Regions from separate parts of the Homo sapiens genome. Here all the other regions are reported to be linked to region 1. The links are microRNA targets in miRTarBase. Many come from high-throughput screens and were not tested one by one. Region 1 holds a microRNA gene; each other region holds the end of a gene's coding sequence.
What was found. The annotated mature microRNA hsa-miR-511-3p reads AAUGUGUAGCAAAAGACAGA and lies in region 1 at 3,677-3,696, opposite strand. An mRNA with a match to its seed (bases 2 to 7 or 8) in the 3' UTR can be bound and repressed. Matches are read on the target gene's strand: a 7mer-m8 pairs with bases 2 to 8, a 7mer-A1 pairs with bases 2 to 7 and ends in A, and an 8mer does both.

Region 1 (5,075 bases):
CAGCCACTTGTTGCCTCAGAACAGACCCACTACCATTTAGTTGCTACCCAAAACTGACACGTGCTTGTGACTAGGAGAGGGATCTGGAGTCATAACTCCTAAAACCTGAATTTGCGGTAAGTTGTGTGATCTTCGGCAAGTCACATCACATGAAAAGGAGTACCCATATAGGTGAAAATTTTTAAATGAGATTAGTACTAACACTAATATCAAACCACCCACCCCATGTTCTTCTGAACTAGAAAAGAATAGAGAGAGTGTGCTTGTAAATCACAAGCACCACACAATCATTATTTAATTAAACCAGCTGTCAACATCCTCAGCCTCGCTACTAATAGGATCAAATTGTATAATCTTGATTATACGCTGCAAAAATTTAATAGTAATGAGCTAGGGGAAAGTGACAATAAAGACATTTGAAGGCAGATGTTTATTCATCCCTATTGCCTTGAGCCTGGCACAGGGCCTGGTACATATAAGCGTATTGAGTATTGGAAGAGAAAAAGAATTGAAGTTATAGTTGATATATGGCTGCTTGTTATTACTATTCTAGAGATACTATTTCAAACAGTAATTTGGCAACATGTTTTGCTTAGAAGGGGACTATATTGCCAAATGAAAGTGAACGTATATATTATTTAAGCTCATATTAAATGTTTTCAAATGGCTGTCTTAGTATATGTTCGTTATAGGGTACCTTTCTTCACTATTCCTTTGATGAATTGGTCGTATCTTCCCTTAAAGGTGGAGAGTATCTGAAACATCATTGTTTAAGCCCAGGATTTTGTGCCCTGCAGTCATACAAGTAACTACTCAGTCATGAGGCTCAAATGCTGTACAATTGTAATAAAAAATGCATATTTAAAAAAATTCTATTCCCTCAATACAATTTAGATTCTGTGCACTTCCAGTGGTTACAAAAAAAAAAAGAAGAAAAAGAAAAAGAAAGCAAGCTTAGTACAGCTTTGGAGCCCTCTGGTGGGTTATTTTAATTTTGCTACCTAGGAAATTGAAAATAGTATCAGCCAATGCTGTCCTTCAAAAACTGAAATGATGAACTTTAAACATATTTGAAAGCATGAAAACAACCAACTTGAGTGAAATGAAGGGGAGTTCCCTGGGGCAGCCACAGAAGATGATTTGTTCCTCTAGCCACAGCTCATGTGCTCAGTGGCCACATGCGGTTAAGTGGCTGCTAAGCCAGAGAGTACAGCCCTAGAGACCTGAGGATTATGGACAAACGGGTTAGTGTTACAATAATTCACAGGGTTTGAGGTTGAATTCTTGCCTAAGGCTGTTGCTAATCCCGTATGCTGCATAATTTGAACTCTGATACGCTTTTCCAAGCTCTGGTTTATTTGAGTTTATAGATAAAACAGAATCATTAATCCAGGGAGTATAGAGATGTTCAGAAACTGACATCAAGTGGTTAGCGAGTGAAGAAGGCATCATGGAGGAATAAGAATGTACTGAGTGTTTGATGAAATGAACAAAATTTTATCTCAGGAAGAAGAGTCATGAACATTTCCATTTTACACATGAGGATCCCAGCACCGGCAGGTTAAGCAGTAAGGCCAAGTTACAGAATTCTGAGTGCTGTACCAGAGAAACTATAAAGTAACTATTCTCCTCTTTGGCAACATGGAAATTCCAAGTCTTAGAAAGAGAATTGTAATGAAGGCTTCCAAAAAAGGAAAAAATACACTATTTCTCCTAGAGGAGGAATAGTAGAGGTAAAATGCAAAAATGGTGAGCTTTCTCTAAAGATACCCACCGTCACTATGGAGAGCCTGTAAAGGATAATCAAACCCAACATCCAGGTCCCGCATCTATATCTATTTAGGATCTTGGCCAAATCTATATCAATTAAAATTGCAAACACATCTCCTCCCTAATCCAACAATTCCACTTCCAGGAATGATCACATGCATGAAATGATGTGCATAGAATGTATATAGTTATTTACCTCAGGACTGTTTGTATTAATAAAAGATTGGAAGTAAATTAAATTAAAAATCCATTACACAGGAGATCGGTCAAAAAAATATATGTGCTGTCTCTGCAATAGCTTTTGGACAGCCATAAAATTAAACATAGAAGCTGTTTATATTCTACGTGGAATGATGTCCAAAATTGTTGTTAAGTGGAAAACTTAGGATAAAAACATATTATAGTATACTGCCATTTGTATGAAACAAAAATAATTATAAATATATTTGTTTATATAGTCACAGAATAACTAAGGATACACACCCAGAAACAATTATTCTCCAGGAAGGTAAACTGGGTGTTACAGGTGAGAGGTAGGGAAAACCTTATTATTTATCATGTTGTATCTTTTGAATCTCTAGCTATGTCAAGCGTATTTTAAAATACATGAAATTGCTTTCAAAGCCAATGGGAAGAAAAAAACAAGAATGCCACATTGTCAGTTTCCTCCAGCAGAAAAACAGAAATAAATTAAACCATTTAAAGCATTCGCTGTCCCTCCAAAAAGAGGTAATAATAAAAAATATGTAGTTTGTCTTTCATCAATTGGAAGAAAGAATTCTTGCCTTAGTAGTTTATTCTCCTATAAAATTGTAAGGGACAACACAATTGATTTTTTTTTTTCTTGAAGTCTAGCCGATATTTAAAATTCAGTTACAGGCCAGGCACGGTGGCTCATGCCTGTAATCCCAGCACTTTGGGAGGCTGAGGTGGGTAGATCACCCAAGGTCAGGAGTTCAAGACAAGCCTGGCCAACACAGCGAAACACCATCTCTGCTAAAAATACAAAAATTAGCTGGGCGTGATGGCACACATCTGTAATCCCAACTACTCGGGAGGCTGAGGCAGGAGAATCACGAACCCAGGAGGCGAAGTTTGCAGTGAGCTGAGATCGCGCCATTGTACTCCAGCCTGGGTGACAGAATGAGACTCTGTCTCAATAAATAAATAAAATTCAGTTACAACTTTTTAGATATTTTATTCTATTTTATGAAAACTTTAGTATAAGACGCTACACTGAATAGCAAGGAAGCCCAGATAGAGCCGTGAGGACCTAATATAAACATCCCTTCCAAATGTTGACTTTCTAGCTTGGATTCCGGTTTTGCCATGTCTGCAAGGTTTCTGTATCCTCTGAATATCTTTTTCCTCAACTATAGCATGTGAATCATGACACCTACCTCAGAGGACTGATTGGGAAGGTAACATTTTTATTTAGGTCAGAGGATCTCCACAATGCCCAGACACCGCCGCACACTCAGGAAATACTAGCAACCAGCACACAGAAATATTGCAGTAATATCATTAAGTTTACCCCATCAACTATCCACAAAACCTCTGGCGGCATTCCAACAGTTACACCTAAGCTGTAATGTTACTTATCTTTCAATTCTAATAGTTGAGGCACTTCAGATCCCATAGATCACTTACCTGAGGGAATAACAAAAGAATTTAAAGTGGTGTTGCCCTTTTTGCAAATATAGCCCAGTTTCTGAACACATTCCAGATTTTCCCATTTAGCATTTTTTCCAGGATTTAGTGACACACAGCTTTTTCCAGGTTCAGCTGATGGACTTCCTTCGAGGAAAAGGAAAAGTTAAAGTGGACTATTATAGCTATTCCCAGCAGATAGCATCCCTCCCACGTCTCCTCATGTCTTCATCCTGGGGATTCAATGGACCACCATTCTGTCTTTTGCTACACATTCACAAAAAAATATTTACTGACTGCAGAGCAAAAGACACGATGGGTGTCTATTGTTTTCTTATCGTTGGATCATTCCAATACTTAGAATGTTGATAAAGCAAATATACTTCTTTGAAACAACCCTTTCCCCCATTATCAGCTAATAAAGCTACACCTTAAAACTTGAACAGTTGTCACAACGGATTACATTATCAAAGAGAGGTACCTAATGAAAAGAATGCATGATTATGCCGCCATAAAAAAAAATGAAATCATCATGTCCTTTGCAGCAACATGGATGCAACTAGAGGCCATTATCCTAAGCGAATTAATGCAGAACAGAAAGCCAAATAGCCATGTTCTCACTTCTAAGTGGGAGCTAAATACCGAGTACTCATGGACACAAAGATGGCAACAACAGAAACTGGGGACTATGAGATGGGGGAGGAATGGAGGGTAACAAAGTTTGGAAAACTAGCTACTGGGTTCTATGCTCACTGCCTGGTTGATGGGATGGATCATTTATATCCCAAACCTCAGCAACATGCAATTTACCTAGGTATGTAACAACCGTGTACATGTATCTCTGAATCTACAAGTAGAATTTATTAAAAAGAAAGAATACATGATGTTCCAAACCTGCCACACTAAACATTATTAGGGCAGGGCACGGTGGCTCACGCCTGTAATCCCAGCACTTTGGGAGGCTGAGGCGGATGGATCAACTGAGGTCAGGAATTCGAGATCAGCCTGGCCAACATAATGAAACCCCATTTCTACTAAAAATACAAAAAAATCGGCCGGGGAGCTGGCGGGCACCTGTAATCCCAGCTACTTGGGAGGCTGAGGCAGGAGAATTGCTTGAACCTGGGAGGCAGAGGTTGCAGTGAGTGGAGATCACACCACTGCACTCCAGCCGGGGTGACAGAGTGAGACTCTGTCTCAAAAATAAAAATAAAAATAAATGGAGGAGAAAAAGCTAATGGGAGAGCTAGATGGGCAGCATGCTGTGCTCCCAGAACTAAAACTGTCTCAATATCTTCAACTCAGCCTACTGAAGAAGACTTTCAGCAGCTATGCCTTATCCATTTCTTAGTGGAAACTGATTAAAGAACCAGATAAAGTCAACGTTGCTAAAGGGATGAATGTAGGCATTGATACATTTCACATGCGTTTTGCTACTCTAATATATGATTTAAAAACCAGTACTCCCCAAACTAGCTTCACCTTCCACCTGAAGACAGGGTGAATGAGCCACATTCTGTTAATACCTATGCTTTGTGACCTCCAATGTGTATGTAACCTGTGCCTGAATGTCACTTCCTTTCCTGCAAGACGGAAATCATATTACCTGCTCCACAAAGTCTGGAGCAGGTAATAACCTAAATAACCTTTTTAAA
Region 2 (5,075 bases), not on the chromosome of region 1:
TGCCTGTGCTCCAAATGTCATCTCTTGGGTCGGGTGGCCAATGCAGAAGCGCTGAGTATGGGTGGCTAACAGAGCTGAGGAGCGGAAAACCATGTCACAGGTCCCACAGGGCAGGAGCGCAGGCTCCCCAGAGTGGGAGTCCATGGGATGGGACCCGTTTCCTGAAACCAGCCAAGACCTGCAGAAGGGATCAAGGGCAGGGGAAAGGCAGAGGAGGATGAAAGAGACATAAAGCCAGAGGCAGAGAGGAAAGGCCGTGTCTATTAGGTCTGTGAGATCTTCAAGTTTGTTTGGGGAGAGCCTTAGCTCCCTGGACAGCAACCACAGGGCTGGGCAGGTCAGGAGAATGGGTGGGGAAACCTCGGCCGTTTGGGAGGAGCCACTGGCTTGAAAAAGTGTTACAAAGTCTGAACGTGGGCAAGTCTCTAATTGTAGCTTGGTTTCCCTGACTATTAATAAAGAGGAAAAAGCAGCTGCCTCCTAGACTAGGCTGGGCCCTTATCACTTACTACATCATTGGTCATTTAATAGCCTCTAAAAGGCAAGTGTCATCTTTTTCATTGCTGTACTCCCAAGTGGATGTAACAGTTTGTACCATTCTCCAATCCAGAGAACTACCTGGCAAAGGAGGCACTCTGACCTTTCCAGCATTCTGCCTGGAAACCATGTCGCACCAGGGATAGCAGTCTCCCTAACTCCCATTCCCTGATTCCTCATTTTTCAGCTGTAGACGAAGATAATCAGCACAGCCCAAGAAATGAAAGCTGTGGGCGAACAGAATGAATCTATCAGATGAGGGAATCAAGTCCAGAAAAAAACCCCTTCTCTCTCCCAAGATTGGCCAGAAGCCAGAAAGACCCTGAACTGTTGGTGAAATTCTTCACTCCACTCCCACTCCCAAAATATATGGAGGAGCTCTGAGGTGACCGCATATTTCTTAAGAAACCCTCTTTACTTTTTTTTTTTTCTTTTTGAGATGGAGTCTCGCTGTCGCCCAGGCCGAAGTGCAGTGGCGCGATCTCAGCTCACTGCAATGAGCTCTGCCTCCTGGGTTCACGCCATTCTCCTGCCTCAGCCTCCCAAGTAGCTGAGACTACAGGTGCCCACCACCACGCTTGGCTCATTTTTTGTATTTTTTAGTAGAGACGGGGTTTCACCATGTTAGCCAGGATGGTCTTGATCTCCTGACCTCGTGATCTGCCCGCCTTGGCCTCCCAAAGTGCTGGGATTACAGGCGTAAGGCACTGCGCCCGGCCAAGAAACACCCTTTTCTCTTCTTTTTTTGAGACAGTCTCGCTCTGTTGCCCAGGCTACAGTGCAATGGCACGATCTCGGCTCACTGCAAGCTCTGCCTCCCAGGTTGACACCATTCTCCTGCCTCAGCCTCCCCAGTAGCTGGGACTACAGGCACCTGCCACCACACCCGGCTTTTTTTTTTTTTTTTTTTTAGACGGAGTCTCGCTCTTTCGCCCAGGCCGAAGTGCAGTGGCACTATCTGGGCTCACTGCAAGCTCCGCCTTCCGGGTTCAAGCCATTCTCCTGCCTCAGCCTCCCGAGTAGCTGAGACTACAGGTGCCCACCACTGTGCCCGGCTAATTTTTTTTGTATTTTTAGTAGAGATGGGGTTTCACCGTGTCAGCCAGGATGGTCTTGATCTCCTGACCTTGTGATCCGCCCGCCTCGGCGTGCCAAAGTGCTGAGATTACAGGCGTGAGCCACTGCGCCCAGCCTTATGCCTGGCTAATTTTTTGTATTTTTAGTAGAGACGGGGTTTCACAGTGTTAGCCAGGATGGTCTCGATCTCCTGACCTCGTGATTCCCCCGCCTCGGCCTCCCAAAGTGCTGGGATTACAGGTGTGAGCCACCATGCCTGGCCGAAACTCCCTTTTCTAAACAAGACAGGGACTTAAGACATTTCCCTACTCAGTACCTAAAGCCAAGGTATGACCCACCAGCAGCAAGTTACAAAGTGTTCAAAGTATGTCATCTCAGTTCAGCTTAATTCCAACTGACATAAAGAGTACATTTTTAGAAATATGTTCTCAGAAAACAAGTAAATGGCAAAGCCCAAATCAAAACCTCCTTTTCAACAACTAAGTTTGTCCCAATTTTCAATGGTTAAGACTTTTGACTGGTTGACTTTACAATGGTGCAACAGTGATAGGCATTCAGTAGAAATACTACTACCATTTTTTTTTTTTTTCCCTCAAGAGACAGCTTGTAGTTCTCTAATCTCCTGCTCTAGGCCGAAGAGGCGGGAGCAGGACTGTCATCCAGGCTGGATTGTAGTGGTGCCATCATGGCTCACTGTAGCCCTGAACTGCCTTGGAATCAAGCAATCCTCCTGCCTTAGCCTCCCAAGAAGCTGGGACTACAAGTGTGTGCTACCACGTGGACCTGTCTATTTTGTTTCTGTTTTTGAGACAGAGTCTTGCTCTGTTGCCCAGGCTGGAGTGCAATGGTGCAGTATGGGCTCACTGCAACCTCTGCCTCCTGGGCTCAAGCAATTCTCCTGCCTCAGCCTCCTAAATAGTTAGGATTACAGGTGCTTGCTGCCATGCCTGGTTGTTTTTTTTTTTTTTTTTTTTTGAGACAGAGTCTCACTCTTTCTCCCAGGCTGGAGTGCAGTGGCGCTATCTCAGCTCACTGCAAGCTCTGCCTCCTGGGTTCACGCCAATCTCCTGCCTCAGCCTCCCGAGTAGCTGGGACTACAGGCGCCCGCCACCATGCCTGGCTAATTTTTTGTATTTTCAGTGGAGATGGGGTTTCACCATGTTAGCCAGGCTGGTCTCGAACTCCTGACCTCAGGTGATTCACCCGCTTCAGCCTCCCAAAGTGCTGGGATTACAGGCGTGAGCCACGCCTGGCTGGACCTGACCATTTTAATGTTTTTGTTTTTTATAGAGACAGGTCACTGTGTTGCCCAGGCTGGTCTTGAACCCCTGTCCTTTTCTTACATCACTGTCTATTCTCTCCCCTACTGGGCTGGGCACTCCTTGCATCCTCAGAGCCTTGCATAATGCCTGGGACATACAACACGGGCTTAGAAAGTATTTGTTGAATGGGCCGGGTGCGGTGGCTCACGCCTGTAATCCCAGAACTTTGGGAGGCCGAGGTGGGTGGATCACAAGATCAGGAGATCGAGACCATCCTGGCAAACACGGTGAAACCCCATCTCTACTAAAAATACAAAAAATGAGCCAGGCGTGGTGGCAGGCGCCTGTAGTCCCAGCTACTCAGGAGGCTGAGGCAGGAGAATGGTGGGAACCCGGGAGGCGGAGCTTACAGTGAGCTGAGATCGCTACTGCACTCCAGCCTGGGTGACACAGTGAGACTCCGTCTCAAAAAAAAAAAAAAAGTATTTGTTGAATGAAAAAACCTGCTTCCTTCACTAGCCATTCAGCTACCATCGTCCAACTCTCCCCCAACCCCCACTCCAAGTTCTTATTTAGTAGGAAAACAGAACAGACTTCCCTTAAAATACGTACACTGGTAAATACATGGGCACTAAAAAACAGTTTCAGGAAAAAAAAAAAACTTGGTTTCTGACTTTATTACTGGTAATTTATTGCACAGGTTTTTCTGCATCAAAAAAGTATCTGCTAAAATAGAGAAACAGTTGTGTCTGAATTCACATTTCCCCCCAACTTCTAAAAATATTTCCCCTAAAAAAGAATCCACTCATCTAATTTTAAAGAAAATATACTTCTTACACAAGACAATCCAAACTGATGCAAAATATTTATTCCAAGTTAGTTATTTTATGCAGTAGTTTCCCCCTCGAGACTTGTGATAACCACATCTTTTAAATCTGTAAATAATGTTATCAAAATAATCTTAATCTTTGAAATCTCACAAAAATTTATATTTTACAATCCACCCTGAATATCAAGGCTGCAAGAATAACACAACATTTCCTATATCCAAATATTTTACAGCTGTACCCAAAAAGGAAAAAGAAAAAAAAAACAAAAAAAAACAACCAAAAAAACCCACATATGCTTGGTTAAGGGCTAAAGTTACCCGAGCAGCCAAAAATAAAATAAAATATCCAAATTATTAGCATTAATTTAATACAATTATAACTTCAATAGTCACTTTGTCATTGACAATGATTGCTTGATCACAGGGGTGAGTGCCCCAAGGGCTGGTAGTAGAAGCTGTTGCTGCAGACCAGTGTCTCCTCTTCCCTGCACTGCCAGCTCCTACCTGTGCATCGCCCCATATATACTGGGTGTGTATGTGTGTGTGTGTGTGAGTGTGTTTAAAAAATCTGTCCCACCACACAAACTTCTCTCTATAAAGCAGATAACAGGGAAGAACAATAACAAAAGCAAAACAAGCCAATTGCTCTCTCTTTGGGATATGATTATTTCCCTTGTGAATGAAGTATTCAACAACATAAGAAAAGGAAAAGAACGATTTCTTTTGTATACTCCCTAAACACACAGAGTTTACTGGGTCAGATTTAACTGTGAGCATTTATATGCCTACTTCCAGGCATCGTCATCTGATGTTTCACTGCTACTGGTTTCGGTGTCTGAGTCCTCAAACTCTGCTTTGCAAGTGCTTCTCCAAGGGGAGAACAGACTGGAACTGCGGCTCTGCAAGAAGCCATTCTTTCCAAAGCCATTTCTTCTCAGCTATGGTTAGCATGGGAGAGAAAGAAAAAAGAAAAAAATATCAATGACTGTACTGACCCATAAGCCCTGGGAAAGGCCAGGCCTCAATTCAATTCTAGGTAGAATGTGGGGCGGGGGGTGCTTCTAAGAGACCCTCTGAGATCTCTTATACCAGTACTTTTCAAATTTTAATTTACGAGTCATCTACGCATCTTTCAAAAATGCAGATTCAGATTCAGAATGTCTGGGATGGGGCTTGAAAGTCCTTATTTCTTTTTATTTATTTATTTTTTTGAGACGGAATCTCGCTCTGTCACCCAGGCTAGAGTGCAATGGCACAATCTTGGCTCACTGCATCCTCCGCCTCCTGGGTTCAAGCGATTCTCCTGCCTCAGCCTCCCAAGTAGCTTGGATTACAGGCGCACACCACCACGCCTAGTTAATTTTTGTATT
Region 3 (5,075 bases), not on the chromosome of region 1:
TCCATGGAGAGCAGCACTGGGTGGCACACACTGAAGCTGGAAAACCTCCACCCTAGAGCACATTCACCCCAAATATTCCACCTGGGTGACTTGGGAAAGCGGGCATCAGGCCACCCTCAGGCCAACCACTAATTTTTGATGACTGACTTGTTCTTAAATTGTTGCCCTTTAGAATTTCCTCCCATAGTCTTCTACTTTTTTCTGAGGCCAAGTTTTAAGTGAACACTTGTGTGTGTGTGTGTGTGTGCACGTGCGAGAGAGAGAGAGAGAGAAGGGATTAGACAGCAAGCCCCCACAGGGGCGTAGAGGCACATTTGATCCTCTTTTAGAGAAGATGTGAGCGTTCTTGTGGGGCCCACTGCTGCCGAGGGTGCTTTGGGAATGGGAAGTGAACTGTCCATGCTGGTCCTTACAGCCTTTGCACATGGGACTGAAACTGGTACTTTCAGGGTCTATTTGCAGAACTATCCCAACACCTTTGGAAGCCAAGTCGTCAGCCACCCTCAGACTCTAGTCCCCACTTCCTCCAGCCACGTGGATGAAAAGTCAGCAATTTCCCTTCTGTTCCTGTGACACATGCTCCAGAGGAGAATGACGCCAGCTTCGACCCTGCAGAGGAGGCCCTGACGCTGTATTCATCCTCACTGCTTCCTTCCTTTCCTCCTGTAGGTGTTCATTCAATGATCTGAGCCTTTCAGACCCTTTCAAGGGTGCAGAAATGGAGAATTGCATTTTTTCAGTGGAAATAAAACATGGAGCAAATAATGGCATAAGAAACACAGCTTAAGGGTTGTGGGGATTTAGAGGAAGGAGAGATTAGTTCTAGTTAGGAGAAGTCGAAGAGGGCTTTATGGAAAGGAGGCACTTGAATTGGAGCTTGAAGGATGCTGAGGATAGGATTGTGCAGATGTGTGGTGAATGGAGCAGGAAGTCAGGCTCAATATGCAGAGAAACGATGTGGGGCCAGGGAGAGGAGATGCTGAACCTCTGGCTGGCAGAAGACAGAGTGTACGGGAAGGGCTCCAAGTCATAGCTGAGCACCTTCACAGTGCATCCCATGGGCTGAGATTTCAGTCTAGTGTCTCACAGCACTGTGTCTGACAGCTTTTCACTGTCATCTTAACACTCATTGAAAGGGAGTCATTTTGGGGAAACGGCATGTTCCTCTGATGAACAGAGGAGATGGAATCCTAGGACTAAGTGTACAAGTAAGAAAATCGGGATGATTCCGTTTGGTGCAGGGTAGACTAGATGTCCAGGGAGAACAAGTGGTCAAACTGAGGCAAAGCCCTGGGAACCCTGGAAGTTGCATCAGCTTGGATTGCATCTGGCGTGCAGCGGGGCACCATTGCGAAGTGTACATCAGGGGAAGGGTGTGATTAGAGCTGGGCTTCAGAAATATTTACCGATCAGGCACTGGTTTGTCGGAGGGCAAGAGACAGAATCACTGTCAGGATGTTCCTGGAATATTTCTGGTGAAAGGTAATGACTGGAGGGTGGGGACAAGGAAACAGATCACAGAAGGATTTCTGTGGCAGAACCAGCAGGGTCGTTGTGAAGACTGAATGATGTTGTGTGGCTTAGGCATCACTTTCACACTGCAGCCTCCACTACTCAGACTCCTGGCCAGCACCAGACCAGCACATTCAACAGCCAGGGCAGCCCTTGCACAGAAACGGCCCTTCCGAAAACCCTCAGGGGTGCTGTCTGACAATGGGCTCCCACATGGCTCTTGGGGTGCTTTGTCTTAGATGAAAAATCATAAAGCCATTTACTGTAGGGCTTTCTGCCTTTTATGAGACTCGCCTATGCAGAGTGAAGGTCTGTGGCCTGATGAGCACAGGCATGTAAGCTAGGTAAATGTTTACGTATGTGCAATGTCATTGCATCCTCACAATAACCCCATGCAGCACAGTCGTCCCTTGGTGTATGTGGGGAACTGCTTTCAGGACCCCCAAGTATATTAAAATTTGAGCACACCCAAGTCCTGCGGTTGGCCCCGAAGAACCCACATATAGGATAAGTCCATCCTCCACATACATGGGTTTTGCATCCCGAGAATACTGTATTTTTTTTTTTTTTTTGAGATGGAGTCTCTGTCGCTGAGGCTGGAGTGCAGTGGCACGATCTTGGCTCACTGCAACCTCCACCCCCTGGGTTCAAGCAATTCTCCTGCCTCATCCTCCCGAATAGCTGGGATTACAGGCGCCTGCCACTATGCCCGGGTAATTTTTGTATTTTTAGTAGAGATGGGGTTTCACCATGTTGACCGGGCTGGTCTCGAACTCCTGACCTCAAGTGATCCACCCACCTCAGCCTCCCAAAGTGCTGGGATTACAGGTGTGAGCCACAGCACTGGCTGAATGCTATATTTTTGATCTGCCTTTGGTTGAAAAAATAAAATCTGTGAATAAGTGAAATCATGCAAGTCCAAACCTGTGTTGTTCAGGGGTCAACTGTAGTTCCTATTATGATGTCCATTTGACAGATGAACAAACTGAGGTGCAGAAGTCCCACAACTGATGCTAGGAATGAAATCCAAGCCTGCCTGACTCCGGAGCCAGTGTTGTTAACTGTTCTACTACACTGCTTTCATAGCTCGTTTGTATCAGGCTGTTCTAAATTGACTTTAAAAGCAATAATTTCCTCAAAAAGGAAAAATAAAAGTAAAAACCAAACAAAAAATGTATGTGTGCAGATGTGTAGTTGTGATCTACTCTGAGCATGACACCCAAATCAGAAGGGAAGTTACCACTCTTAGCCAGGTGCTTCCACCCAGGTAAGATCATTGATTCTTCCCAACAGCTCTGAGAGGTGAGTGTCTTAGGGACATGACATCATTACCCGAGGCCACTGAGGAACCAGGACTCTGTGGAACAATGGCTGATGCCACATATGGGACTGGAAGTGTGCAAGATGGGCTGGAAAAGTTCACAGGAACTAATTTGAAGGTCACCCACTGGCTAAAGATAGGGTGATTTGGCATTAAAGAAAAAATTGGTGAGTTGAAACACATCAAATATGTTTAAAATTCTTTGGTGTTTAATATAGTACCAACTCATTCTGAAAACTGGTAAACAAAGGAAACAAAACCCCAAGTAATTGTCTTCTTTCCTGGGCAAATGGTTGATGAGGGAAAGGTTTTATCTTGTTTTATCTTGTTTTCAAGACAAGGTCTTGCTCTATCACCCAGATTGGAGTACAGTGGCAAGGTCATAGATCACTGCAACTTTGACACCCTGGGCTCAAGCAATCCTCCTTCCTTGGCTTCCCAGAGTGCTGGGACAGACGTGAGCCATCGTGCCCAGCCAAAGATTATTATTATTTTTTTTATTTTGAGAAGGAGTCTCGCTCTGTTGCCAGGCTGGAGTGCAGTGGCGTGATCTTGGCTCACTGCAGCCTCTGTCTCCTGGGTTCAAGCGATTCTCCTGCCTCAGCTTCCTGGGTAGCTGGGACTACAGGCGTGTGCCACCATGCCTGGCTAATTTTTGTACTTTTAGTAGAGAAGGGGTTTAACCATGTTGGCCAGGATAGTCTCCATCTCTTGACCTCGTGATCTGCCTGCCTTGGCCTCCGAAAGTGCTAGGATTACAGGCGTGAGCCACTGTACCCAGCCTATGTTTTTTATAGAAGAATTCCAACTAACAAATGCCAAAGGGATAGCAGAATTAGAAAAACACCTGTTCTGCCGCCCCTAATTATAGTGTGGATCTCAGCAATGATCATCAATGACCACTGAAACGATCAGGTAAAATGCTGAACTTTGTAATGAATGATTAAAGCCAAGAACTCCAAACCCACCCAGCAGTCTTAACATTACCAATAGAGAGGCACCAGCATTATCTGCCTCCTGACAGGATGCAACAAGAAGTACCCAGCACCACCTAGGAAGTATTTTTGCCACAAAATCAGACCTCCAGATCTAACTACCATTTTATAGGAAAGATAAGTTCAGAGAACCATGTCAAATGACACCTCGGGATTTCAACCAGCAACGTTCAAATGTGCTAAACTCTGTAGATGGAAAGAGACTTACAGACATTTCAAATAAATGCAATATATGGGCCTTGCTTGAATCCTAATACAAACAATCCAACTACAAAAACAGCCAAACATTTGTGGGACAATGGGAGATGCTTGAATTCCGATTGTATATTTAAGGATGTTAGAAATATTTATGGACAAAATGATGTAATGCTCGGAATTTGCTTCAGAATGATCCAGGTACAGCATGTGGAGCTGGAGAGAGGAGTGGGCAGCAGTGTAGATAAACAGGCCTGGCCGTGTGTGGATGGGTTGTCAGGGCTGAGTGGAGTTGCAAAGGGATTTATTATACCATGATCTCTGCTTGTGCATATGTTTGGAGATTTTCATAATCAAATGTGAAAATTTTTGATTTTCATAATCAAAAATCAATACAAAATATGAATGTATAACGTAATTCCTCCATCATGACGGTGGTGGGAGTGGTGTGTATGTGTGAAGTGTGTGTGTGTGTATATGTGTGTGTGTGTGTGTATTCTCATGTTCTGTTTGGTCTTAATTCAAGTTGCAACCCTGGAAACAGCTACATTCTCTGGAAAATAACTTTTTGTAGGTGTAAAGAATGCCCCAGCCTAACATATTCAAGGTCTGTCAGACAGGCAGGCACAGACACAAGGCCCCTCCTTAGGGGACTGCTGGGGCCAGTCCCACACGGTTATTCCCACGGTCAAAGACTGAGTAAAACTGTCGAATGAAGACATCCCCCAGGATCCAGAGGGGCCCAGCTGGAGGGTGGATGTCAAGTCCTTGAAAGCCACTGCTGCAGAACTGCATTCCATCCACGAAGTCCTGTGGGTTGGAAAGAAGGATGCAAATGACAAACGGGGGAAGAAGGTAGTAGTACTGCCTGGAGGCTGCCTGTGTGGTGGTGGTGGCTGGCACTGGGTGGCCTTGGACAGCTGGTGGGTTCCACCATTTTGGTCGGTGGGTTCTTCCTCCTGCTTCATATGTCCCTACCCTAGGTTGCTTAATAAAGTGTTTGTCTGCACAAGTCCATTCTTATGGGCCTGGGGTCTATGTTCTACAATTTT
Region 4 (5,075 bases), not on the chromosome of region 1:
TTACTTTTTTACTTTTTGGTGAGTATATTTTTGAGATTTGGTGGTTATCATTTACATCATTGACTCTTCAGTGGAATATTCATAGTAGTGTAAATAGATTCTTTGAAAATAAGGCACAAGTATATGTTGTTCTCTGATTGTCTCCCACGAGAGTGCACCAAACGAGCGATCCCAAGAAATGGACTTGAGGCACATTTTGCAGAGGTGTCTTTTTCAGTTTGCTGGTTTCCCACAGATGGCTAAAGCAGGGGTATGGAACATGCTGTCATATTTCATTCATAACACACATGTACTATAGCTCTAGGCAACAGATGGACAATCGCTTGTTTGAACTACAAATGTGAAATACTAAGGTAGAATAGCAATATTTCTAGAAATGTATATGAAAAAATAAAGCCTTTCCAAGCCAAGAGGAATGGTGAGAGGCTTTGAGGTTACATCAGTGTTTCCCTGATCTCCCTAGCAGCTGCCATAATTTCCCCAACACCCTTCAAAACTTGATAATGGAAGGATCAGGGGGCAGCCGACACAGATTTGACAAGAGAAGCCCAAACCATATCCAATAGAAATAACACTGTTATTCCTGGCTGGTTCACATTAATAGGATTTTTACTAACTAAAAAAATGGCTGGAAGTTGTGTTTTCAGAGTCCTGTCTATATTCCACTAACTCTCTACTATAGCCCCATGGAAAAAGCCCTCTCTTTCTTCCTCTGTACCCAAATATAAAATACTTGTTTAAATGTAGAGTTTCATATCCTTTAAACCTCACCATAAACATCTCTGTGGAATCTTTCATAGGGAACAATTATAGTGTTGATAAGTCCACCCCCTTAATCAGCACATACCCAGAAAAGTAATTTTGATCAGAGAAGTTGCTCCTACAGAAATAACAATGTGTTAATGACAAGAAAAAGAACCCACATCTTTGAGCTGCAGAGATGCCAGCATCTAACAACCTGATGCCTTATGCTGGGACACATGACTTATTTTTGAGTCGATTATTTATTTATTTGTTTTTTTAAACAAGCGCATGCCACCATGTCTGGCTAATTTGGTTTTTATTTTATTTTATTTTTTGTAGAGACAAGGTCTCACTATGTTGCCCAGGCTGGTGTCAAACTCCTGGCCTCAGGCAATCCTCCTGTCTCAGCCTCCCAAATTGCTGGGATTACAAGTGTGAGTCACCACACCTGGCCTTATTTTCGAGTTTTAAAGGCAATTTTCTTGGCCAGTGAGACTCCATGTTGAGTCAGTATGGTCTGGGGGTTGAAAAATTTAAGAAATCCTATTTTGATATGTTCTGCAGAGCCCATGATATAGTGGATTTTTTTCCTTTTCCATGTCTCTCTTGTTACACAGAATTACCAAATATTTATATTCCTGATACTTTTCAAAATCAGTATATTTTTACAAACTTTCTGTTATAGACTCTGATTTTTCTACTATTTATGTATTTAAACCACAACAATTATGATATTATATCAGCAGACAGTATGATTATAATCATTAAAGTAATACAATCTTTTTCTCTCTGTTGCAGGCAAAATTTCATGCAACTAAAAAAGAGTGACTTGGCATTGTTTAAATCAAATGATTAATAGAAAAGACAGTAATATAAATCATATATTTAAGAAACCCTAGAATAAAATATTGTAGGATCCTTTCCTTATTATACCTTGTGAAAGAAAAAAAAAACTCTAAATCTAAATGTTTCTACATATGTATGAGTGCACATTCATTATTATAAAAGAATAAGTCTATCTTAAAAAGAGATTTACTTTAAAAACCTTTGGTAAAGATACTCTGAGGTTATGTTATAAGAATGCATAATAAAGATTGTAAGCAAGCAGTATTCTGCTGACGATGCCACAGGGATGGGTCTGTGACAGCATTTTCTTACAGCTTTTCCTCTTGACATGTAAACATTCAGTTACACAAGGATTTAAATGTAATAAGCAAGTAGAATGTTACTGCATTTTATAGTATAAATATTCAATAAATTCTTCTTCTTTTGGCAAAATTAATAATAATATGACCACTTTAAGAGATACAATCTATCCCTCAATAAATTGGACTCTCTGCTTTGTCCTAAAGAGAATTTCTCCGAAAGTATTACATAAAAAGTTACTAAGTCAAAATTCAAGCCGATTACATTATCAGCCCTATTGTCAAATAGTCAGTGCTACTTGAGGTCATCAGCATGGTCTGGCTTCAATTTGGAAGACAGGAATTCAGAGACACAGTTGACATTGCCTCCCAAAACTAACATGCTGCCCCTAAGTGAATCTCATCATATTTCACATTATGAGAAATATACGATCAAAGATAAGAGAACTAGGGTAAGAAAAAGACAGTGGTCAAAGGAAGCTCTTAAAAGCTATAATTTTGGTGGTTCTAACACAAAACCGTTTAGTGACAAAAGCAAATGAGCCATACATTAAGGATGAGCTATAGTGACCATCGGCTTAAGAATTTCTAGTCACAAAAAAAGAATCACTTTTATGATCATTCCTATTCAAGTAAAATAAATTTAATTGGAATTCCTGAGGAATAGTTTGCAATTCAAAACACGTATCCATAATTTTTTATTTCAGTTCTGATGTTAAAATTAAAAACTAGAAAAAAAACTAGAAATCTGAACATCACTTCACAATAATGAAAAAGATATCTGTGGAATAAGGAAACGGTACATTGGAGGATGTAATTATACTTGTTATATTTGGTGTCTTAAACTGGGTATTAGGTATATAGGAATTCATTATATTATTATTTATACCTTTTTGTAGACTTAAAATACTCCATAATTTAAAAGTATATACTTGTGGGAGATTTGAAGAAAGATTTAAGAAATCTCAGTCCAAAATCCTTAGTTTACAAAATGGCAACTTGCCATGACTAAGCTAGGTGTCTCTCCTTAAGTGAAACATGTTCGAACTTAATAAGTATGGCTTGGCAGTTGGCAAGCAAGTGTTTCACTGGCTAATAAAAGTTTGAATAAAGATTCTAGGCAGAGATTCTGCATATTTTTAGCTCATAAAGACAATTTTTGTTTCAGTGATTGTCTTTGAAAGTGTGGTGTAAATGTCACATTGATGATATGAAAATGTCTCCTGCAATATGTAATTTCAGTTGCAGAAGGATTATGAGAATAATGAAACTGTGGTTTCAGAATCTTTTCAAGCTTTCTACTCTTTTGAAAGTAAACCAAACAAAACTGCACAGTTTTATTTTGTATGCTCTGATTTGCAATTGTCAGGCAAAATGGACCTGGTAATAAAAAAGAAAAAGAAGAGAATTTGAACGGTTTTTTCACAGCCTTCATCCTCTAGAGAAAAAGGCAATTTTGATAGTTGTGTTGGATATTAGAATAAACATGACAATATTTTTAAGATGAGAAGTGGGACAGTATTGAAAATGTTATCTTCTAGAAGAAATCAAGTTTGTCTGTATTACAATGTTCAGGTAGTGCGGAAAAGAAAAATCTTAAGGTAATATTGTGGGACAATAATGTTTTTTTAAACATAACCCCAAAATGCCTTTTCTAGCATATCCCACCTGTAATTTCTTTAGAAAAATATTGAAGCTTGGTTGTCTGTCACTACTTATTAGCTATGGGCCGATAACTCTTTTCCAATTAGCCTTGATCACTGGTCACTATAGATTCTGAATTCTGATGGTTGCAAATTAAATTTGGGCTTGTTCTAACTTATGTAATTTACAGCTTAAATTCTTTACAGCCTAACAAAAAAAAATTGTGCATTTCCCTCCCCAAGGACGTGAGTAGTATAAAGCAAGAGAAGAATATCCTCTTCAATACATGGGAAAAGAATGGCTACTCTTTACAGTCACAGGCAAAACGGAAATGATAGGATGGAGATTTCAAGCCTAAAAGCACCTGTGAGTTGGCAGACTCACCCAGGAAAAACTATGTGACAGCAAATACCACACTAAGAAAAGCCATTCAACCAGATGAAAAGTGAGACAAACATAGGGATTAAAAGTTACAGGAATGCAGAAGTGAATGGGATGGAGCATAATCTGTGCAAAAATGTGGAAGTCCTTGGGAACAAAGGCCCATCAAGATCCTACATGATTCAATGTGAAATGTGTATTTGGTAACAACTTTTAAAAAAAATCTCATAATTTATGTGTTTCTAAGGCAAGGTTAATAGCAGATGAAGAACAGAGACTATCGCGTAGTTTGATGGCCTTTACTCTAGTATTTCTTATCTTTTTCTTGTGTTCGTTCTTCTCAGTGCCGGCTGAACAGGTGACTGAATCTAAAGGTCAGTGCTCGCCTTGGCGGTCAACACCCTGATGCGGGCAGAGTTGCAGGTCTTGCAGAGGATGTGCCCATCCAAGGGGTAGCAGCCTTGGTTATCTCCTTCAGACAGGAGACCACCGCAATCCTAGAACAGTAAAGACAGATGGAAACGACATAAGTAAAAACGTTAAGTACACATGTGGAGAACATCATGATTGAGCTTTCTATTCAAGGCCTCCATAATGTGGCCACTTACTATCCTTCCTGCTTTACATTCTGCTAATCCCCTGTATCCTTTCTCCCAATATATAACATAGTATATCTTGAATGTAATTGAATTAGAGATTGGGGACATAAATATAAATGGACATAAATATAATCCTCCTAAGCTCACTTGATATGAAATACAGGTATAAGAAGAGAAGAGGCCACCCATCTTGGCTCCCATGTAGAAGTTTGCTGCCCCCACTCAACAAGAGAAAATAAGAATGTCCCTAACCACCGATGCATTTTTTACCCTTTACCATTAGTTTAAGGATCTCTCAAAATGCATGCACAGGTACAGGAATGGAATGTTTTGGCCATTTCTGGCCTAGAGCAAAGGTAGACTGATGTCTGCCAAGCAGAAGGGCCACCAGTGGGTTCGGTGTATTTACTTCAACTGCAGTAAGAAAATAAAATCCTAAAGTTTGTGGGGAGTAGTGGTTTGCTGTACTTTCTAAAGGAGACAGCATTGTGGAGAGCAAAGATTGCTAGTCCAGGGGACAGGCCTCCTGAGCACCACCCACAGTTTTGCTACAGTCTGCCTC
Region 5 (5,064 bases), not on the chromosome of region 1:
ATGTGCTCTGTGGTTCAGAAGAGTACCAATGTAGAGGAGTTGCATCAGTCAGCTAAAGAAGTATTCAAAAGTGCCCATACGCCAGTCATCATCTCTGTGCTAAACAGCAGTAACATCCTTGGGAGTCTGGAATCTTCTCTTTCACACTTGATGAAATTCCCCATCATGAATCTTCAATTAAGTGACTTCTATACAGAAGACACCAAAGAGCAATCAGATGTCACCACATCTGAGAGAACCAGAAGTCCTCCAGGTTCTTCCAAAACCACTATGATAGACACCTTGAAAAAACTGCAGGATGTACTAAAAACTGAGGATTCCAAAAATCCCACAAAGTCAGCAGCAGATTTGTTGGAACAAATTGTCAAGGCTATGGGACCAATCTTAGAGATCCTCCAAAAAGCGATAAAGACTATGGAAATGAATATTTCTGTGTTTAAGAAAGCCAGTGACAAGTAGGGATGCAACAGAAATGTTCATTTCTGTCAGAAAACTACTTAAAATCTTATGGTTTTTCATAGTAGTTTCTAAGATCTTTTGGTGCCAAACATGTGCTATGTTAGAACATAAGTACACAAAAGTCATCTGGCAAAACATTTACCTGTAGTTTTGCTTTATTAAAATAAAAAGAAATAATTAAGAAAGCCTGTTTGAAATGTCAGTCACTAAGAAGAATATATTGTTGAAAAAAACAAAGTGGTATTACATTTGAGGATGTTTCTAAATATTGTGTTTCATCTTAAAGCATAATTAAAACAACCCTAAAGTAGTTCCCACTCTTAACTATTCTATTTCCAGTGAGAAATCCAGGTAAACTGTAAATATTATCATTAGATAGAAAATCTAGGCCTGGGAAACAAAATAAACTCCATTTTTGTCACTCATATACCAATTTCTATATACTTCAGTACCTTGACGATCAGAAGCCATCACTAAATATTTTAAATATGATTCATAAGTAAGTGAGAACAGTGAATGAGCAATAATAGACTTTTCTTGCTTATGTGAGTAAGACCAGAACAGATAGTTCATTCTCACTTGTCTCCTGAGGTCTTATGATTAGAAAATACTAGAGGTGGAAAAATGGAAGTACTCTAGCCTTTCACAAAGAAAAGACTTTCACAAGGAAAACACTTGCAGAAGTAGGATATCTGAGATGTGCTTTATTTAAAGAAATGAGATAGGGCAGTCTCTTTGTCTACCATAAGTCTTTGGTTCTCATGCATTGTAAATGAGTATGTACTCCTAAGATTGGTGTTGAAGTTAACTATTTCACATGATACCTGATAGAACTCTGTTGAGAATAGGAAAAGCAATAATAACTCCAAGCCAAAGCCATCATTGTAATTCCCATTGTCATTTAAAATAAGGAGTCCCTTCTCCATCCTCATATAATTTCAAAATGTTTGGTAGGGAGGGTCAAGTGGATTTTGACCATTACCAGAGCTTGGAGGTTCTGGAAAAAACGATGAGTTTCAATACATTAACTCTCATTTTCTCTCCACAGCAAAGCTGAAACCTTGCTTATTTGTAATAGGTTTCTATTAAGAACTCTATTATTTTGAAGAGGATGTTAAATTGATTCATTTGCTACCATACACATACACACACACACACACACACACACACAGAGGGTGAGAGAGAGGAGAAGGGAGACAGGACTCTCACTTTGCTACTTTTTCTGGACCTATATGTGTCTAGGGTTTCAATCTCCTTTTAGTTTTAGGATTATGTTTCAGAATGTTGGATGCAACAGCTAGGGGGATTCATATGGAAATGAATGAGACAAGGACCAAGAAAAGTCTTGGTGCATAGTCTTTCTGTGAGGTGACTGGAAGAATAGCTGGTGGCAGTTCACAGGAAGTCCTTGCCAGATGCCAATGGGAATGACAACCAGGGTGTTAGAGATGGGAAGTGCCCACTTCAATAAAGATGAGTGGTCTTCCAGTGCTGGTGGCTGTTGTTAGGCTGGTGATCACTTACAGTGTTTCACATTTTCCCACCACTGGGTACCACCAGTCTGACCACTCTAATGACATCATGTCTGCTGCTGCCTCCTGGCTTCTGGAAATACTGAGGAAAAGCTGTATTTTTTTCTCAAACCTATTACTCACATTTAATGTTTCTCTCAAATACTTTGGTTTTGGGTTCCTCTCATTTTCTCTAATATCCTTCAGTTTTTGAAGAACAAAGTGGGGTGTGTTTCTATACTATGCCTGGTCTCATTCCTCCTCTAGGCTGTGAGCATGGGATGGCCTAGCTGTTTGAATGAATCATCAGTAGGGAGGAAAAAGTGAACTGCCACACAACACAACACATGATCATTTACTATTAAAAAAAATGAAATACTATTATACTTGTAATTTTTTTTATTAGTTGCCAGTGTTTGCTGCATCTTGGTATTTCTGAAAGCACCTAATAAATGCTTGTTGAATTTTACCAAATCAAGAGCTAGTTCATTCAGTGTAAATCAATTTGATTCATATTATTAGACAACTCAGTACAAGAATCCTGATTCTTCTAGCAAAACAAACTTTACTGAAATTTTCTTTCATTGGATTTTTTTTAAAGTAAGAGTAAATAGAGAACTTCAGGATAATCTAATAGGCGTATTAAAGAGAACACCTTGTTATAAAAATAAAGTATTACATGGGTTGAGTGTTTTTACTTTTTAAATTTTTCCTGTTTCAATCAGCTTCTTCAGATTAAACAGTATATTTCTGTACACATCAAAAGGAGACATACATGTATTTGTTTAATAAAATTACTATAGGACATAAGTACTCCTTACAGCACAGTCTCTGTTAACAGTTGCATGAATTTACACATATTTGAGCATCCGCCTTATCTTTGGAAGATATCCCAGGCTAACAAATTTATCCCAGCAGAAATTACAGTGAAATTTCTAAAACTAGTCTCTTAGAGTTTCATAAACATGTAACTTAATCAATTTAAATCAATACTCTACAGATTCCTTGCTCAACAACTTTGGACTATAGGGAGAGACTGAGGGGATGTGAGCTATGTACATTTATCCTTAACCAAACTCATGAATCTACATAATTTTAAGAGAATAGTTTCTGTCTCCAGAGATTTGATCTGTAAAACAGCAGCAGGAGTTAGAACTAAGTTATCTTTTTTAGAAACTTGGCTATTCCCTTAAGGATCATAATTGTGTAAGTCACAGTGTTCTCAAATGTTGGTGTATAGCAGAATCATCTAGAGGACTTATTAAAACAGACTGTTCAATTTCTGTAGTCTGTAGTCTGGGATCAGGCCCTAAAATTCACATTTCTAATGAGTTCTTAAAGGATGCTATTGCTGCTTGTGCCTAGAGAGTCAACGCTTTAGGAGAATTGTCTTACTCAGAAAATTATGACTTCTCATGGAAATCAAATGCTTTTGGCTGACTTTTTAGCTTCACTGAGTGGCTTCCAATTTCCTCTCCAGCCCACATTACCCCTCACTCTCTGCCAGACCTATCTGCTCCCTGACCTTATGCTGTACATACATCGATCATTCCGTATTCGCTTCTATTTTCTGCTTTCCTCTAAGTAAAACATCATCTCTGATAGAAAGCTTTATCTAACCATAGGCCAGAGGAATCACATTTTTCTCTCAGCTCCAAGCATTTAATATTTGGCCTTGTTTTGGGCACTACGCACTTGGCACATACTCTTTCTTGTTTTTTTCTCCTTCTGCTCACCCCTTCTCCCAGCCTAGAGCCCTAACGGCTGGTTCAAATGCAGCCTCTTACTTAAAGCCTTCCGGGTGTCTCTTCTTGCCTCAGTTGGAAGAAATCTTTCTTTTGAATTGTTATGAACAGAAAACTTGATTTTTGCCTTTTTTTTTTTTGGCATTTCACTTGTGGCTTGCTTTATGTTCTTAATTTCTCCTAAGAGATTGTAAACTCATGAGAGATCTGGCCTAGTGTTCTTAACTTTTAATCCCCAAAGTGCTTTGTACACAGTATGGCTCAATACATGCATTTATATGGCACAGGAAAAATGTACTTAAGATGTTGGGTGGCTTTTACCAACATAGCATGTCATTACTGACTCATCGATGCTCACTGGAAAAGCTTGCTCCCAGAGCCATGTCCCCAGGACTCTCTACTAGGTAGCCACCAAACTGCCAAAGACCCTATCCTATGCAAGTCACATAAATTGTCTGTTTGTAGAAATTCTTTCTTTTTTTCTTTTTTTGAGATCGAGTCTCACTCTGTTGCCCAGGCTGGAGTGCAGTGGTGTGAACTTGGCTCACTGCACTACCTCCGCCTCCTGGGTTTAGGCAATTTTCCTGCCTCAGCCTCCCAAGTAGCTGGGATTACAGGTGCGTGCCACCATGCCTGGCTAATTTTTGTATTTGTAGTAGAGACGGGGTTTCACCATGCTGGCCAGGCTGGTCTTGAACTCCTGACCTCGTGATCCGTCCTCCTCGGCCTCCCAAAGTGCTGGGATTACAGGGGTGAGCCACCATGCCTGGCAGAAATTCTTTCCTTTATTGACTGTAGAGGCTACTGCAACTAGGTGACAGAGGTGATTTGGCCCTGTTAGTTTCAAATCCCAATTTAAAGAATGATAGTACAGAGATGCCTGAACTCCCTGCCAGGTAATTTTATGTAGCTTATTCCCCATTCCATTTCTTTGATCATGACACAGGCCATTCAGGAAGTCCTATGGAGAGTAAATAGATGGACCGATTTTCAGTTTTGCTGTTTCTTATCCAAATCTTAAAAGGGATAAGGAGCATGGACTTTCAAAATCCAAAATTATAGAGCTAGCCCTCATCTTTACTCCATTTAGCCTGATACCAGGGTCTTCAGTGATCGTGATCGGGTTAAATAATCCCTTATGTCGCTACCTAAATTACTACCTGAGGGAAGCGTTAGAGGACATTTCCAGCTATACAATTCAACAATTTATACTTCTTTGCATGTACTAGTTTACATGTAATGAGACCTCGCTATATTGCTGATATTTGTTTGTAATCAGTGTTTTTTTCTCTCATACTCTCTGTTAACCTTCACACATACCCTCATGTTTTCCTAATATTTAAATTTGC
Region 6 (5,075 bases), not on the chromosome of region 1:
CTCCAAAAAAAAAAGTTTATTTATAAAATACTGACAGTTTGACAGGACACGGGACTTCTTGTGGTATATATTTCAAATCAATTTCTTTCTTACCTTTCATTTAAAAAATAAACCTGCTAACACGCTATATGACATAGAGATATATATTTTTTTCTTACAGACAGACACCTGCCATAATGAATACTCTCCCCATAATTTTTTGTTATATCTTTTAAATCAAAAAATAAAGATTTGTGTTGATTTTTGTTTCTGGAGTCTAGATGGATGGAGAAAGGTAACACGTTTAAATGCTTTTGGTTATTCTGATGGAAACAAAGAGAAGGGGGGTGGTCCCGAGGGGGCACCTGTGCTCAGGTGGTGGTCAGGATTGCCATGTGCGCATGCCCATGGGTGTCCCTGGATAGGGCCATACAGAGGCACTGGGGAGCGGGTGGCGGCTGCTCAGATGGTCTCCCCTTTACCTTCCTGCCCACCAGCCCCTCACCCAGGGTAGGCACCTTCAGATGTGCACTCTGGGAAGCTGAGGGAAGCCCCTGCCCAGCCAGAGTGGCACTGTGGTGAGGCTCTGGCACCTTTAGAAGCACTGCCCAGGGAGGCGTGGGCAGCAACAGAAGGCCTTGAGGCAGCGTGCACCAGGTGGGGGCAGCCCCCGCTGTGTCCTTGTTTCCTCTAAATCACGGCAGTGCCAGGTTTGGGGGTAGGAGTTTTGGGGGCCGGGGGGTGAGGGATGGACAGAAGGGGAGGCAGCCTGGGTTTGCAAACTCTCTGGAGCCCTAGGAGGATGGTGGTTCTGGAGCCCAGAGCATCTTTTTGGTTTGTCTTGGCAGTGTGGGTGTGGAGCTGACGTCAACTCTGGAGGCGCAGCCAGGAAGGGGAAAGCCCTGGTGTGCCCAGCATGGGCTCCTGGGTGCAACACTGGGAGATTGCTTAGGGCACAAGGAGGCAATGCCAAAGGTGCCAGGTGTGTCCTGGTGTGAACCTGCTTTGGGTGGAGTCCCACAGGCAGGGGCCCTGGCATCACTGGCACGGAAAATCACAGGCCAGAAAGGGTCCCACTCTTTCTACAAAGGGCAGGGCCCACCACCCCTTTCTAATGTGGCCAGGTTTCTGGGAGGACGGTTGGGAGCCTCGGCTGTGCCAGTAGATATGTAAACAAGGGCAAAGAGACGTGTCCTGAAAAAATCTAGAGTTCCACAGCTGCAGGCCTGGGCTTCCAGCTGTGGCTGGGGCTGTGGAGACAATATTCCAGATGAGTGGGTATTGACTAAGTGTGGGACTTTCACCATGGGCCCAGCCTGATCTCATGGGCTTGTCTAAATTTGCGTGGTGTCCTCACCCTCTCAGACAATAGATCCCAGCCACGCCCCAAGTGCAAGCAACCCAGGCCACCTGTGCCTCACAGGGGAGAGATGGCTTCAGCCATCAGAGGGAGTTCAGGAGTCTCTTTGCTAACACACATACAGATGTGTGTTCTGTGCATATTTGTGTGTGCATGTGTGTAAGCACAGGCGTGCATGGGCACCATCCCGCATGTACACGTAGGTGTCAGCATGGGTGCGAATGAGCGTGTGGGGAGTGGGGGGGTGGAATATCTTAGTGCACCAGGTGATTCATTAAAGGCAAAGGAAAATTGACCTCATGTGCAATATATACACAGACACAATGTTTTTACTCACTCCTGCTTCCTCCCAAATAATCCCTCACTGGGCTGGGCTTAAATAATTCCCTAATGCAAACTGGGAACTTCCTTAAATGGTTAAATGCTCAGCAGAGAGGGAAAGGGATGAAGTTATTTAAAAAAAAAAAAAAAAAAAAGATGAGAGGAAAGAAAAGAAAGCTGTGCGGCACGATCACAGGCCGGCAGCTGCAGATGTGCTGCCATGGAGATGCCAGATGCTGCAGAGGGTGGGGGCGGAGGTGGCAGGGGTGGAGCAGGTGTCCAGCTGACTCCACTGCAGCCCCCAGACAAGTCCAAGGAGGCCCCGAGAGCACCTTACTTCCTGGAGGGGCAGAACCTCAGCCCTTGGTTCTCCTTTGGGGAAGATTGTGCTTCCCTTCCCAGGCCTCCTTATTGGAGAAACCGCTTTTTGGACACTGGAGCTGGGCTGGCCTGTCTGCTGAGCCATCTTCCAGCATCTCCCCGTTCACATTTCCCAGGGGTCAAGTGCTTCAGGAAAAACTCATGGCTGGGTGTGCCCGTTCTTTGGGCCCCAGACCCTGACTTCCCTTCCCGGTCACCATTAGCACAGTGACTGACTTGGGGCTGTAGGAGAGTGGTCCAGGCTCTCTCTTACCTTGGCATGTTTCCCAAATCTCCTACTTGGGCTTCCTTGAACTCTGCTCACCCACCCCAACAGAGCATCATCTCTTGGGCAGGGCCAGCAGCGCCTGTACACAGTGCACAGAGGGAGCCCTGCTCCACGAAGGGGCTCACGCTGAATCAGACAGGCCCCTGTGGGCCATCTGCCACCCATCTCAGCGGTGGGGCAGGTGTTGGGCTGGCCTTACAGGGCTGGCTGAGGGCACAGAGGGCCTTGGACAATGTATGGAGTTAGATAGAAAGGCTTCTCCCTAAACCCTGGCATCCGTAAGTACCAAGTGGACGGGAAGATCCTGGCCACTGGATGTGGCTTTTTGCAGAACACTCCTTGGAGCAGATTGTGTATGTGTATGTGTGTGTGTGTGTGTGTGTGTGTGTGTAAAAGCATTCCCTCCCATCAGCTATTCTTGTCACTTGGTCCCATCTGACCTGCCCCTGCTGGGCGTGCAATTCAAATGCTGGGTCCACTTTGGACTGAGCTTCCTGACCTGCCCCTTCCCCTCCCCGCCCTGGCCAGGCGGAGCCCAGCCTGGAAGCTGTTACTGGGGGTTAGGGTGTCTTTGCCTTTTTGCCTGTAAACTGGGTGCTAGGCTGACTGAGCAAACTCTGGGTATTCCAGCCTCTGGACCAGGGACTTGGGCCACCCCTCTGGGCTCCTGTGCCTCTGTGCTTAGGAGGCTGCCGGGTGGCAGTGAGAGGGACACAGATCTGAAAGTGAGTGTGCTGTCTGGCTAGGAGGGCCCAGATGAGTTTGTTCTGGAGAGGATCCCTAGACCCTGTTCCTTGTAAGTGCATGGGAGATGTGTGTGTGTGTGTGTGTGTGGTGAGGATCTATCCAGTGGAGAGTGACGTGTCTGCCCAGAGGGAGATCCCTCAGCTGTGCCCCACTCCCCAGCCTTGGGAAGCTGACTACCCCTTTAAAGAGAGGACGGATGGAACCTGGATTGGAAGAAAGAGAACAGTCAAAGTGTCATTCTTATCTTGCCCACAATGCGTTAAACCTAATCATCCCACAGTGCCAAGGCCAGTCGCCTTATTTACACCTCTGCTCCCCAGACTTCACCTTTCCTTGTCCATGCTCAGGAAAGTCAATTCCAGCACAGGGAGGCAGGGGTCAGTTGTGGGGGGTTTCTCCCCTACCCTTGGGCTCTCTTCCTTGGATTCAATATTTTAAAAAATATGCAGGAACAAGGAAGGCGCTAAGCAAATTCTCACCCTTTAGTTTTTTGTTTTTTGTTTTTCTTCCTTTTTCTAAATAAACCAAATGCTTGGTGGAGAAGTTGAGCAGGGGAGATGGGCAGTAGAGGTTGCCAAGACAGGGCAGGGGGTCTGGATGAGGCTGTCCGATGCCTGCCAGCCACAGTGATGGTGCATGGAGGGAAGGAGGAGCAGAGAGAGAAGATAGGCGTGGCCTCCGGGATGCCCATTCTTTTTGCAGAGAGCAGCGGCAGTGGGTCCAGGGGTCCTGGAGGGGCTGGAAGGGGGCAGCTGGCTGGACATCCAGAAGCTTTTTCTTCCCTCGGCCACGCCTGCCTGGCGGCCTCCAGTCCTTAGCCTCCGCTCCCTCTCTCTCTCCAGATGCCCGCCCCACTCCGTGTCCATAGCAGTGACACAGCCACTTCCCCAGCTCCGTGTAATTCCCAAGGGAGCAGTGAACCCCACCATCTCAAAGCTGAAGAGCTGCTGGCCACACACATCCTCTCACGGTTTTCTCCCTCCTTCTGAACGCCGGCTTTGCTGGCCCTGGAATCTCTGGAAAAATAAACTCAGGAGGTGAAAAGTTGACTTGGTTTCTTGGTGTTTTTGTTTTCTGGCAGGCAGTGAGAGGAGGGGTGAAGGAGGAGTTTGGTGCCATTTCTCTTTCTGCTTTTTCCTCTTCTGATGTCAAACAAATGATGAAAATCCTGCTATGGGAGCCCGGGAGCCTGGGGCCAGGCTGCTGGGGGGACGGTAGAGGGTGCTCTGCTGACTTGGGGGGTTAGGGGGGTTCTGGGGCGTTGGAGTCCGACTGGCCTTGGGCCGAAAGAGGCTGCCCTGCTGGGTGCTGGTGCTGTTGGTGACGGTGGTGTGGTCTGGCTCACCCGAGTCGCTCTCCGTGTAGCTGTAGGCCTGTGCCCTCGAGATGCCCTTCTGCTGTCGCCGCCACGAGTTGTAGTATGTGGGGTCACTGATGTAGTGGTTGACAAAGGAGTGGGCCTTCTGGTGGTTTGAGTCGACCTCGTACTCGCTGTCACTTCCCTGGGAGGACAGAGAATCAGGGTGTGTCAGTGGCCCCGTAGGGACAGGCCATTGTGGTTGGGGCCGGAAGGCACAGGGCATTCTGGTTCAAAACTCTGCTCTGCCTCTTTCAAGACTTGGACTGTGGGCCTCCCAGCCCCCTCACTGCCAAGGGGGTCTGGTGCCCGTTTGTGCCCGCCTGCTGCTTCCTTCACAGCAGATCCGGAACCGGAAGGATCTACTATGGGGTTGGCCCAGAGCTGGGAGATACCTGATAGAATCAGAAGACCTGAGTTTTTTTTTGTTTTTGTTTTTGTTTTTTTTTTTTGAGACAGAATCTCGCTGTTGCCAGGCTGGAGTACATTGGCATGATCTTGGCTCACTCCAACCTCTGACTCCCTGGTTCAAGCAATTCTCCTGCCTCAGCCTCCTGAGTAGCTGGGATGACAGACATGTGCCACCACGCCTGGCTAATTTTTTTGGTATGTTTAGGGGTTTCACCATGTTAGCTAGGCTGGTCTTGAACTCCTGACCTCAA

Region 2: miRTarBase lists GPBP1L1 as a target of hsa-miR-511-3p. Seed matches in the 3' UTR shown: 7mer-A1 at 4,240-4,246.
Region 3: miRTarBase lists CTSE as a target of hsa-miR-511-3p. Seed matches in the 3' UTR shown: 7mer-A1 at 4,500-4,506 and 7mer-A1 at 4,475-4,481.
Region 4: miRTarBase lists LPP as a target of hsa-miR-511-3p. Seed matches in the 3' UTR shown: 7mer-A1 at 4,148-4,154 and 7mer-m8 at 4,107-4,113.
Region 5: the mRNA of C12orf60 is a reported target of hsa-miR-511-3p. The part of its 3' UTR that is shown has no 7-base or 8-base seed match.
Region 6: miRTarBase lists SDK2 as a target of hsa-miR-511-3p. Seed matches in the 3' UTR shown: 7mer-A1 at 2,670-2,676 and 8mer at 2,664-2,671.

Annotation. Positions count from the first base shown.
Region 1 is chr10:17,843,781-17,848,855 of GRCh38, reverse strand. It overlaps MIR511 (microRNA 511), which reads right to left and starts at 3,749; the gene lies at 3,663-3,749. MRC1 (mannose receptor C-type 1) reads right to left here. Exons shown (of 30, transcript NM_002438.4): 6 at 3,421-3,567.
Region 2 is chr1:45,623,766-45,628,840 of GRCh38, forward strand. It overlaps GPBP1L1 (GC-rich promoter binding protein 1 like 1), which reads right to left. Exons shown (of 13, transcript NM_021639.5): 13 at 3,539-4,643. The coding sequence ends at 4,491. It overlaps CCDC17 (coiled-coil domain containing 17), which reads right to left and starts at 289. Exons shown (of 13, transcript NM_001114938.3): 1 at 1-289. The coding sequence starts at 144.
Region 3 is chr1:206,005,515-206,010,589 of GRCh38, forward strand. It overlaps CTSE (cathepsin E), which reads right to left. Exons shown (of 9, transcript NM_001910.4): 9 at 3,750-4,833. The coding sequence ends at 4,669. Among named protein-coding and RNA genes, the nearest start is that of RAB7B, 4.7 kb to the left of the region's middle.
Region 4 is chr3:188,873,687-188,878,761 of GRCh38, reverse strand. LPP (LIM domain containing preferred translocation partner in lipoma) reads right to left here. Exons shown (of 12, transcript NM_001375462.1): 12 at 1-4,411. The coding sequence ends at 4,283. Among named protein-coding and RNA genes, the nearest start is that of TPRG1-AS1, 71 kb to the left of the region's middle.
Region 5 is chr12:14,823,215-14,828,278 of GRCh38, forward strand. It overlaps C12orf60 (chromosome 12 open reading frame 60), which reads left to right. Exons shown (of 2, transcript NM_175874.4): 2 at 1-1,201. The coding sequence ends at 459. It overlaps ART4 (ADP-ribosyltransferase 4 (inactive) (Dombrock blood group)), which reads right to left. Exons shown (of 3, transcript NM_021071.4): 3 at 2,355-5,064. Among named protein-coding and RNA genes, the nearest start is that of SMCO3, 12 kb to the left of the region's middle.
Region 6 is chr17:73,334,383-73,339,457 of GRCh38, forward strand. SDK2 (sidekick cell adhesion molecule 2) reads right to left here. Exons shown (of 45, transcript NM_001144952.2): 45 at 2-4,558. The coding sequence ends at 4,205. Among named protein-coding and RNA genes, the nearest start is that of CDC42EP4, 25 kb to the left of the region's middle. RefSeq lists an enhancer at 2,350-3,249.